3 linked regions of the Homo sapiens genome follow. The protein of the gene in region 3 purifies or fractionates together with the protein of the main gene of each other region. This does not show direct contact. Each region holds a gene or a part of one and is shown on either strand. Other genes may lie near its edges. The genes, in order: YBX1, MCRIP1 and DDX6.

Region 1 (3,652 bases), on a different chromosome or scaffold from region 3:
TATGCTTCTGAACTGGTTTTAATGATTCTGGGACTTTTTTAATAAGATGCTGTAAAATCTGACTCCAATTAAATACAGGGAAGATTTGCTTTAATTAAGGAAAATGTATGTGATAAAAGAAATCACTTTGGAAGCTAGCAGTTGGTTCTATATGTAGTTCGTGTAGTGGAACAAATAGACTTGGCTGGAGGCACCTGTCTCTTATGAGGGAGGGAGACAGACTGACACATAACGTGCTGTTTTCTGTATAAAGGAGAGGGTGCAGTGTTCGGGATGACTATTGTGACGACTTTTAATTGGGGTTTTTGGATGCGCTGGATTATATATGCTAGGATTGTAAGGAATTTTTATAATTACAATATTGTATGTAAATTTTCTGCCTTTAAAGACATAATTTCATTGTAAATGTGTTTATTCCAGCCTGAATTACCACCTGATGAATTGTTACAACCTTGTTAGAATTAATTCATGAAAGGGCTTCTCCCTGATGGTTATATTGTGAAGAAGGTGCTAAGTAACATGAGCATAGAGCTTTTAAAAATAGCAGAAGTTTTGGCTTTATTTTGTTAGACTGTGTAATCTAGAAATTCTAAGAAATTCATTGAGTTATTCTTTTGTGAACTGTGTCTACAAAACATAATCGGAGAATGTGACTAGAGGGGTTTATTAGCTCCCCCCAGATTACTGTTGAATTTTGTTAGTGGTTGAGTATTGATCCATATTCACCAAAGATTACCATGAATTGGCAACAGTTTATAGTGACCAGAATAGGAATATTTTTCTGTTTCCAGAGTACTTAAAATGTTTAAATTAATAATTCTTAATGTTTTGAGGTGAAAGAATTTGGAGCAGAGGTCACAAATTTGTGACCTTCTGGCTAAAACTACTCCCAGATGCTTTGATTAGACAGTACAGTATTTTTTAAAGGAATTGGGATTAATTACTAACATTTATAATTCAGGAGATAACACCAAGTAATCCAGATTATTATATTTTTAAGATCTGAACTTTAGCTGGCTTTGGGGGCCTGTATTTCCACATAAGTAAAAACCACCTGGCCATATTGTCACCACATTTAGGTGGGGTATACTTTTTTTACGACAGCCTTCACGCCTGGCCTCTGTGTATGCATTTGAGTTTATTACCCATGGTCTAGGAAGATGTAATAAACCAAGCCAGGGAAAGGTTTGGCTATCTCTCTTTAGTCACGCCTATCAGGTTTAGTCTCCCTTTGGGGTGGGGGCTCCCTTGTGGGGATTCCATATGTACATAACTGATAGGTGACTTCCAACACATGTTGGTGAAAATAGATACAGCTAACAAGTATTTATACTAGGGTCTATAGTAAGTGCTTAAAATGAGCCAATTTACTTAATCTTTAAAAACCTTTGAGGCGTAGGTACTGTCATTCTGAGGCACAAAGGAGTTGTTACTTGTCCCCATAAGCATAGGTGATAAGTGGCAGGATTGGAACTGTTTTTTGACTCTGGAGTTAGTGTTCACCAACTGCTCTTATGCTGTCTCTGAAATAGACCCTAGCCATTTTCAATTTGGTTGTTGTCCACATAGTTACAGATAATTTCTTAGGGTGATTATTTTTAGCCGTTGAAAGACTCTTAAATGATCCAAGTATGTCACTGGGGCTCTTGTCTGCTGACTTGCTAGGTCCTGGATTTGAAAAGTTTTCTGCCTTTCACTATCTACTTTGTGAAGTTTGGGATTGTTAAAAGTTCTAGTTTAGCATGTAGGTCAGCTATACAAATAAAAGGACTTGCTTAATTCCTGATACTGGGAGGTGAAGAATTAAAGGAGAGAATGTTGCACCTTATCTCCCTTAATCTTTTTTTTTTGTATGGCCTGCAAGGTAAGACTGAATATTGCCTTTTTAAAGGGTGATTTTTCTTGAGATGGAGTTTCACTCTTGTCACCCAGGCTGGAGTGCAATGGCACGATCTTGGCTCACTGCAACTCCGCCTCCCAGGTTCAAGCGATTCTCCTGCCTCAGCCTCCCGAGTAGCTGGGATTACAGGCGCCCGCCACCACACAGGCTAATTTTGTATTTTTAGTGGAAACAGGGTTTCTCCATGTTGGCCAGGCTGGTCTCAAGCTCCTGACCTCAGGTGATCCACCCGCCTAGGCCTCCCAAAGTGCTGGGATTACAGGTGTGAGCCACTGCGCCCGGCCTCTAAAGGGTGATTTTTTTTTCTTTTTTAAAGGTGGCGGTGTAAAGTACTTACTGTGTGGTTGTTGGTTGTTTGAAGTGGAGTCTCTCTGTGTTGCCCATATGGGTCTTGCACTCCTGGGCTCAAGTGATCTTCCAGCTTCAGCCTCCCAAATGTGTGGTTCTTAATAGAAGTGTAAACCTTTGGAAGGATGTCATTACCAAAAATCTCTTGGGCTGTTAAAGTCACACTGATCTTAACTTGATCACAGTAGATCCATTGCTAAGCCACATAAGTCATGGGTAGACCGTAACATAACTGACAAAATGTTTTGGCACTAGGGAAGGTTTAAAGACTTTTCTGCAGGTGCTGCTAAGGGAGAGATGTCGAAGGTTCCAAACTGGAACCCTAAAGACAAACATCAATGACATGTATGCAGGAGACATTAGGAGAGATTTGTATGCTGGTTATATTAACCATTGATCTTAAGCTGGCAAGAAGTCATCCGTGTTCACCAAGTCACTGATACGTGACTTGGAGAATACTAGTAGGTCCCACTCCCTGTGTCCTCCCAAAGTACAATCCTTTACTCTTGAAATCTAGGATAGAGAACTAGTATCCAGTTTGACTCGTGAACAATGTGAGTTTGAACCACACAAGTCCACTTACACACAGATTTTTTTTGATAAATATATTGGAAAAATGTTTGGAGATTTGCAACAACCTGAAAACTTCAGATGAACCACATAGCCAAGAAGTATCCCCCAAAATAAGGAAAAGTTGAGTATGTTGTAGATACTAGTCTGTTTTATTATTTACTACCATAAAATGTACACAAATGCATTAGAAAGTTAATACAGCCATTTGCAGTTGAGAAATGTAAACAAACATAAAGATTCAGGCAGCATTAAATCATAACTGCACGACATTCACTGTAGTAATATTGTACTATTATAATATGTAGCCACTGCCTATTGCTACTGCAGTGAGCCCCTTAAAATGCCATGTGACGCTAATCATCTTCACATGAACAGTTTATCTCTCCAGTAAATTGCATGTCAGTAAAAAGAACTTGTAGTACACAGGTATTGTGGTTTAGTGCAATACTGTAAGTCTTCAATAGCACCATGGGACCCATGCAAAGTGGCGCTAGTGATGCTGAGAAAAGTCATGGCATTGTAAGAAAAAGTTCAGTTGCTCGATATGTGCTATAGATGAGGTCTACAGCTGGAATTACCTTTCAGACAGATGTACACTTACCGTATCGATAAGTGCAGTACTGTACATGTATTTTCTCTTACAACTTTCTTAGCATTTTCTTTTCTGTAGCTTTATTGCAAGAATACAGTATATAATACATATAAGACAGAAAATGTGTTAAGGATTTATGTTACCAGTAAGGCTTTCCAGTCACGAGTAAGCCATTAAATTTTGGAAGAGTCAAAAGTTACAGGCAGATTTCAACTGTGCAGCAGGTTGGCACCTCAAAC
Region 2 (3,652 bases), on a different chromosome or scaffold from region 3:
CAGGTCGATGGGCTTGAAGGCTGCCAGGGGACAACGCGGTAGGTGGTGGGCACAGGCCCCTCCTGCCCATGAGGCCCGGCCTGCCGGCCCAGCCCTGCCCCCAGGTCAGCCCCCACTCACTCTTCAGGCTGGGGTTAGGGACCTTCTCCACATACTCCTCCACCAGGCCCCGCTCGCCACCCGGCACCTGGCCTCGCAGGTCTCGCTCCACACCCTGCCAGGCTGCAGAGGCAGAGAGTGGTGTGCTCAGGGCCCCCTGCCCCAGGGGGTGGCATCCACGTCACGAGAGTGCCTGCCCTCAGCTCCTGCCCTCCCAGATCCTCTTCTCCCTCAGAAGTGTCCTCCATGCTCCCCCACAGCCCTCTGCCCACCCCAGCCTCACTCACCTGCAGACCCCGTCCCCGCTCCTCTGGCAGGCCTGTCCCTTCCCCGCAAGATGACCAGGACTGTGGTCAGAGGGACCCCTATGACCCTACCCCAGGCTTCCCTGCGCCTCGGAGGCAGCGCATCCTCCTCAGCTAGGCCTCTATCTTTCCCACCTCATCCACGCACCTCCCCGGCCCCAGCACACGGCACACTCCCCTAATCCCAGACAACCACCTCCCGGCCACTTCTGCAACACGCCCGTTCATGGCTGGATGCGTGCCTGTCTGTCTTCAAAGGCCCCTCCCTTTCCCCAGCAAACTCCTCCAGTGCTGCTAGCATGGATGACTGGCTCCCAGTGCGGCCTCTATCTGTGGCATGGCCCACCCCCAGCCCCTCCTCCCGGGCTCCCCCCATGATCAGAACCAGGTCTCCTCTCTACACAAGGTCCCCTCGGCCACCCCTACCCGCCTGGGCCCTGAAGGCTGTGGACACAGTGATGGGGCTATCTGTGCCCTGGAGGGGCAGGGGCAGGGGCCGCAGGAGGTTCCTCGGAGCGTGGGTCCTGGGCTGGGGGCAGAGCTGACTCCGTCAAGGACAGGGCAGGAGCTGTGTGTGGCAGGCGCACCCACCTTCGTAAATGAAGCGGACGTTCTCCTCGTGGGCTGGGGTGAAGATCTCGCTGCTGCTGGGTGGGGAGCGGGGGCTGCTGGTCCTCTTGCCGTTGTACACGACTCTGGAGACGGGGGAGCTGGGGGAGCCTGGCGCATGAGACAGGGCACACAGCAGGGTGGGAGCCCACAACCCGCCCCGGTGGAGACCAGCCCACCTGCCTGAGACCCACCTGGTCATCGCGGGGGCGTCTGATCCTAGCGCTCCACCGCCAGATCCCCTCAGCCTCTGAAACAGAAGCCAGCGCAGGCATGGGACGCAGGGCCACCCTCTCCAGCACAGAAGGAGGGGGAGGCGCAGGGCACACCTGCCTCCTCCCTTCAGATGTGAACAAAGTGCATGGTCCCTCTGCCTACCAGGGTGTCCCCCACAGGCTGGGGTCCAGCCACAGGCAGCCAGTGGGCTCCAGGCAACCCTACGAGGTAGCAGAGAGCTGGCCAGACGAGCCAGACACACACACAACTTGAAGCGATCAAGCCCGCTCAGCGGCCTTGATCCTCCACGTCTCAGGCTCAGACGTGGAGGCCTCAGCCCCAGCACCGGGAGCACTGTGGCCAGAGCCCCTCCCCACGTGGGCTGGTGGGGCCGTCAGCATCTCTGATGTCCAGCTGCCTCTCACTGCAGCAGAGGGCCTGCAGCCCCTCAGCTAACTGACCCTGCTCTCCCTGGTGCAGGGCTGGGCACACGGCTTCTGCTGAGCCTTGATTTCCTTTCTGTAAAACGGGGATGAGCTTCCTAAAGGTGATCCCAGCTCCCCGGCACCTACCCAGGTCCAGCTTCCTGGTTCCCTAGAGCATGAGCCACATCAGTACCCTGGAGATGGAACCAAACTCCAGCTCCCCTGGTGGGCAGAGGGGGTGGCCCTGGAGGAAGCTGCTGGGCCTGACCTGGTGACCAAGACCCTGGGCTGCCGCCCGTTTATGGCCTCCCAGCCCAGGGGAATCCACGGCTCTGGAAAAATGGAGTCTATTTTGAGGCTCAGACGCTCACACTGGCAGGCTGGACAGTGTCCCCACTCCAGCTGAGGACACACAACCCCAAGGTGGGGAAGCTGACAGGGCTGGTCTCCAGCCTGCCCTGCTCCAGAGGGGGCAACTCCAGGTTCTGGGGGAGGGGAGTCCCAGGATTCCCAGGAGGGGGCTTTGAGCACAAGCAACTCCCCTGCCCACCCAGAGGCCCAAGGCTGCAGATACTCCAGGGCACACGGCTGCAGCCCTCACAGAGGGCCAGGAGCACTGAGGCTTCGAGTCCTCTCTGGCTCATTCCGCCTCATGTCAATGGTCCAGCCCTCAAACACCACGTGATAAGAATCCCACGGCTCAAGGGCAAAACCAGCAAAGAGCAGAAAACCAGCTCCCAGCCCTGGAACTCTGTGCCCCATCCCAGGCCAGGAGTGAGGTCCAAAAAGGGCCAGGGGCTCCCCACCCACGGCAGCACCCAGTTTGCTCACAAAGTCACCTCTCCTTTCTTGGACTCTGGGGTCTCTCTGCCCAGTCCTCCTGCCAGGGACTCCAGCCCACGAACACCAGAGCACGGAGGGAAAGGCCTGTTTGGGTTGAGGGTCCCACAGGGACATGCTGCCTGCTGGGAAGCTCCCGTTACAGAGAAAGGCAGAGCTCAGGTAACAGGTAGACTGGCCAGCCCCCTGCCTCGCCCCCTGCTGGCTCTCACCACTGACCGACTGCTGCTTTAGGGGTACCTGCCTCCCAGCCTGCCCTCTCCCGTGGCTCTTCTCCCCATGCATCCTCTGCCTCCAGTGGCCACTTGGCCTTTATGCAGCCACACCTTTGGCCTGGGATCCCCCTGCTGGGTTCGGTTGTCACTCCTGCCCCAGATCCCACTGATTGCCCCACATCCTCCCAAGCAACTACCCTTCCGGGGCTCCCTTTGCCTTGTGTGCACACACACACACACACACACACCTGCCCACACATACCTACCTGCACACACCTTAGCTGAATACATCTGCCACACACATGCATACAACCGCCCGCACACACCTGTCTGTACACACCTGCCCACACACATGCGGCACACACCCATATGAACACACCTGGTGTGGCAGCATGCACTTGTAGTCCCAGCTACTCAGAGGCTGGGGTGGGAGGACTGCTTGAGCCCAGGAGGTCAAGGCTGCAGGGAGCCAAGATCGTGGCACTGCACTCCAGCCCAGGCAACAGAGCAAGACCCTGTGTCAAAAAAAAAAAAAAAGCCCAGGCACGGTGGCTCACGCTTGTAATCCCAACACTTTGGGAGGCAGAGGCGGGTGGATCAGCTGAGGTCAGGAGTTTGAGAGCAGCCTGGCGAACATGGTGAAACCCTGTCTCTACTAAAAATACAAAATTAGTTGGGCGTGGTGGCAGGCACCCGTAATCCCAGCTACTCGGGAGGCTGAAACAGGAGAATCGCTTGAACCCGGGAGGTGGAGGTGCAGTGAGCCAAGATCGCGCCAACGCACTCCAGCCTGGGCGACAGAGCAAGACTCCATCTCAAAAAAAAAAAAAAAAAAAAGGCCAGGCGTGGTGGCTCACGCCTGTAATCCCAGCACTTTGGGAGGCCGAGGCGGGTGGATCACAAGGTCAGGAGTTCAAGACCAGCCTGGCCAATATGGTGAAAC
Region 3 (3,103 bases):
CGTAGATAGTTGTTATACTGTAGTTCAGAGAACAAGAAAAATCTGTACATACTCAGTACAGACCCAACCATTGTAGGCCTAACACTTTTGGTCTGCAGTTGACTAAATGTGCAGACGTAAAACCCAGATACAGGGGACTGACTCTATTTTCTTAGTTATACTTAAGCATTTCTTTGGGTAGAGAGGTAGTGAGAGTGATGTGCTCAACTTTAAGTGTCTGCTTTTCCCAACTTTTATTTCCCAATCTTTTATTTCATCAGTGGTTTGTAGTTCTCAGCATATGAATTCCATTCATACTGTTAAGATGTAGTATGCCTTGGTTTTGGGGGTATGTTCAGCTTTACATTTGAGAACAATTGTAGGAGGTGGTAATTACTGATGTATTTGGACATATTATGGACCACATCTCCCCTCTTCCCAACCGATTATCTTGGTTCTCCATTTAGGCTGTGAAATCTGACAGCATGGTGGAACAGTATCTACAACAGATGAAGGGGCTCTGAATTCAACTGGGCTTCACAGGAATGATGGGTTGAGAAATGTCTGTTTCACAGTATGAATTACCTGAGCAAAATGCTCAGATTCCTATGCACACAGCTGCTACTAAGGACATACCACACACACATTTGGAGTTCCAGTGGGCTTTTATTGAGATAAATTAACAAAAACCAAGATTTTACCATATTTTTGGAACCTTATAAACTCAGCAGACTCCGGTCCATATATGCGTACATACAACATAACACATCCCAACAAAAACAGAGCCCCCCCCCCCCCCACTGGAACATCTGCCAATTAAGAGAAAGCCAATTTTCCCTTCCCCCAATGTTTCTGAAATTTTGAGTTCCCACTGTTCACTTCTCAGTGGAACTGGTCCCTTGTGGCTAGGGACATTGGAATTCTCTACCATTTTTACTGAACAAAAAATAATTTTTTTTCCTGTTTCAAAAAAGGGAATAGTGACTTTGTTTTCTCCAGGCTCCCCTTCCCACACAACCAATGTAAAATACAGCAGCCTGTATCTTAATAACCCAGCCCTACCCCCTCCCTTACCCAGCATTGTCTACTGGAGAATTTAAATACACTTCTGTTGGAATCTGTCAGCTGTGGATGGGCAGAGTCCAGGTGCCAGGCTAGCTCCCTCTGACCTCATGAACTGTGACAACCTTTGGACACTTAACTCTTTACCCCAAAGATGAGTTTTTAGATCAGAAAGGAGAGCAGATTTTCTTTGGGAGTTTTAAAAAACTATCTTTAGATTTAGAGATACAAAGTACAACTACAATCTCACAGAAGTCCACTAAAGTTCACCAAAAAGCTGACTTACTTCAGCTCTCATGAGGCCAATAATTTTGATAAAGGTATCTGGCAGGAAAATGATTCCACAATAACAAATTTAAAGATACCTAGAACATTGAAAAAAATAGCAAATTAAAATAAATGGCTTAATTTCCAAGAACTTATTTCATTTTTTTGTTACTCATCTAGAAGGTCAGGAGTGTGGCTAAAGGCAGTTTCTGATGAGGTTATGAGCTTCCAAAGTGTTTCTAAATCCTTAGTGCAGACACCCTCCCTTCTGGGGCAAAGTACCCTCCCTCCCACCCCTATTAAAAAAAAAAATTAAAAAATTAAACCACGTCATCAGAATGAGATGTTTTGATTCCAACAATTTATACTCAAGGCTTTGTGCTGAGTTGTCGTTTGAACCAAGCATGATGTTATCAAGCACAAAGCACGTGGCAAAGGAAAGATGCTCCCATCTCATTCTGAAAACAAATACTGATAACCAAGCCCACCCTCCAACCCTTTGGGGCCAACCCATTTTATGCTGCTGGGACCAACTTCAAACAATTTAGAGGTATATTTAGGTTTCCCTCTCTCTTACTTCTGTGAAAGATCATTTTAGAATAAATGTATTCCATTCCTATGGGAGAGGCAAAACAGTATTTATCCCCATCAGAATATATGGGGAAAGAAAAAACATAGGCCTAGAGGTGGTAAGGTGTGTAACAGTCCATAGCCCATTACACAACTGTACAACCAAAGGCTAAATGATGAGTTGGATGTAGTTTTAATATTAAAAATAGAGGGTAGTTCTCATCCAAATGAGCCACTGGAAAATATTATCATTACTTAAAAAAATACATATTTAATATTGGAAAGAATGTGAAAACAACTTCCAATAGTAACAATGCTTATTATGAGGGCCCAAAAAAGAAAGAAAAAAAAAAAAAAAAAAAAAAAGACCAGGCTTTGACCTAGTCCTCAGAGCATCTTTCCATTTAACAATTCCTATTCAAGAGTCAAGCACCAAAACTGGACAGCTGCCTCTACAAGACCGTGTCCAGTAGTGGTGTCCCAGATAGTTTAAGTGCCACTCCTCATTAGAGGCTATACTTCAGTAATACTTTCCATTTTAAGTCTGTGCTTTAAGAGGGACCCACAGGCATGTGGCACCACGCAGTCTAAAGTTGGTGAAGGAGACTGCACTTTTTGTTTAGTCACCCACACGTTCTCTAGCGAGATACAGAATTGCATTTATACTCTTTTCTTCTACATGAATGATCCCTCTTATCTCGCAAGAGGTGGGGGAGAAAGAGAGCTGCATCGGTACAAGGGCACAATTTTTTTGGTCAAAAGTTGACACCTTTTAAATTCCCTCTCCCACCCCTCCCTGGAAAAAAGTTACTTCCTTAATTAGGTTTTCTATTTAGTAACCAACATTGACTGGACAGAAAATATGAGGCTTGGGTTCCAAATAGATGAGCTTGTTCTTTTTTGGGTTTGTACCGTGCAGTTCTTGCTACAGTTGTTAAGGAGTTAGGGCTATGTCCCATCAGGAGGCATCTGTAGGATTTTGATCTCCAAGGAATTGTGGGTGAGTCGCAAATAGTTTGCTCAGAAGTAGGCAGAGTCAAAAAAGCAACTTCAAGTAATTGATTCCTTTGTCCAAAAGAGTTAAAACATTAAAGTATATGCGGGACTTATTTTGTAATATTTTAGGGTTTTGAAAAATAAAATATGGAAATCAATTTTTTTTAATTTTGTTTTTTGCTTTTTTCCCCCCCTTTCCAGATGCCTCCTGATTGACCTAGTACACTGG

The links.
Region 1: the proteins of DDX6 (region 3) and YBX1 purify together in Homo sapiens (co-immunoprecipitation; 4 studies listed by BioGRID and IntAct, with this or other methods). This does not show direct contact.
Region 2: the proteins of DDX6 (region 3) and MCRIP1 purify together in Homo sapiens (affinity purification with mass spectrometry; 3 studies listed by BioGRID and IntAct, with this or other methods). This does not show direct contact.

The regions. Positions count from the first base shown.
Region 1 is NC_000001.11:42,685,398-42,689,049, forward strand, and holds part of YBX1 (Y-box-binding protein 1), read left to right. Parts: intron 1-3,652. UniProt on the Homo sapiens protein: DNA- and RNA-binding protein involved in various processes, such as translational repression, RNA stabilization, mRNA splicing, DNA repair and transcription regulation.
Region 2 is NC_000017.11:81,823,292-81,826,943, forward strand, and holds part of MCRIP1 (mapk-regulated corepressor-interacting protein 1), read right to left. Parts: intron 3,225-3,652; exon of another isoform or gene 3,104-3,224; coding exon of another isoform or gene 3,089-3,103; intron 1,264-3,088; coding exon of another isoform or gene 1,216-1,263; coding exon 1,208-1,215; intron 1,115-1,207; coding exon 996-1,114; intron 223-995; coding exon 121-222; intron 21-120; coding exon 1-20. UniProt on the Homo sapiens protein: The phosphorylation status of MCRIP1 functions as a molecular switch to regulate epithelial-mesenchymal transition. Unphosphorylated MCRIP1 binds to and inhibits the transcriptional corepressor CTBP(s).
Region 3 is NC_000011.10:118,747,138-118,750,240, forward strand, and holds the end of DDX6 (probable ATP-dependent RNA helicase DDX6), read right to left. Parts: 3' UTR 626-3,103; downstream 1-625.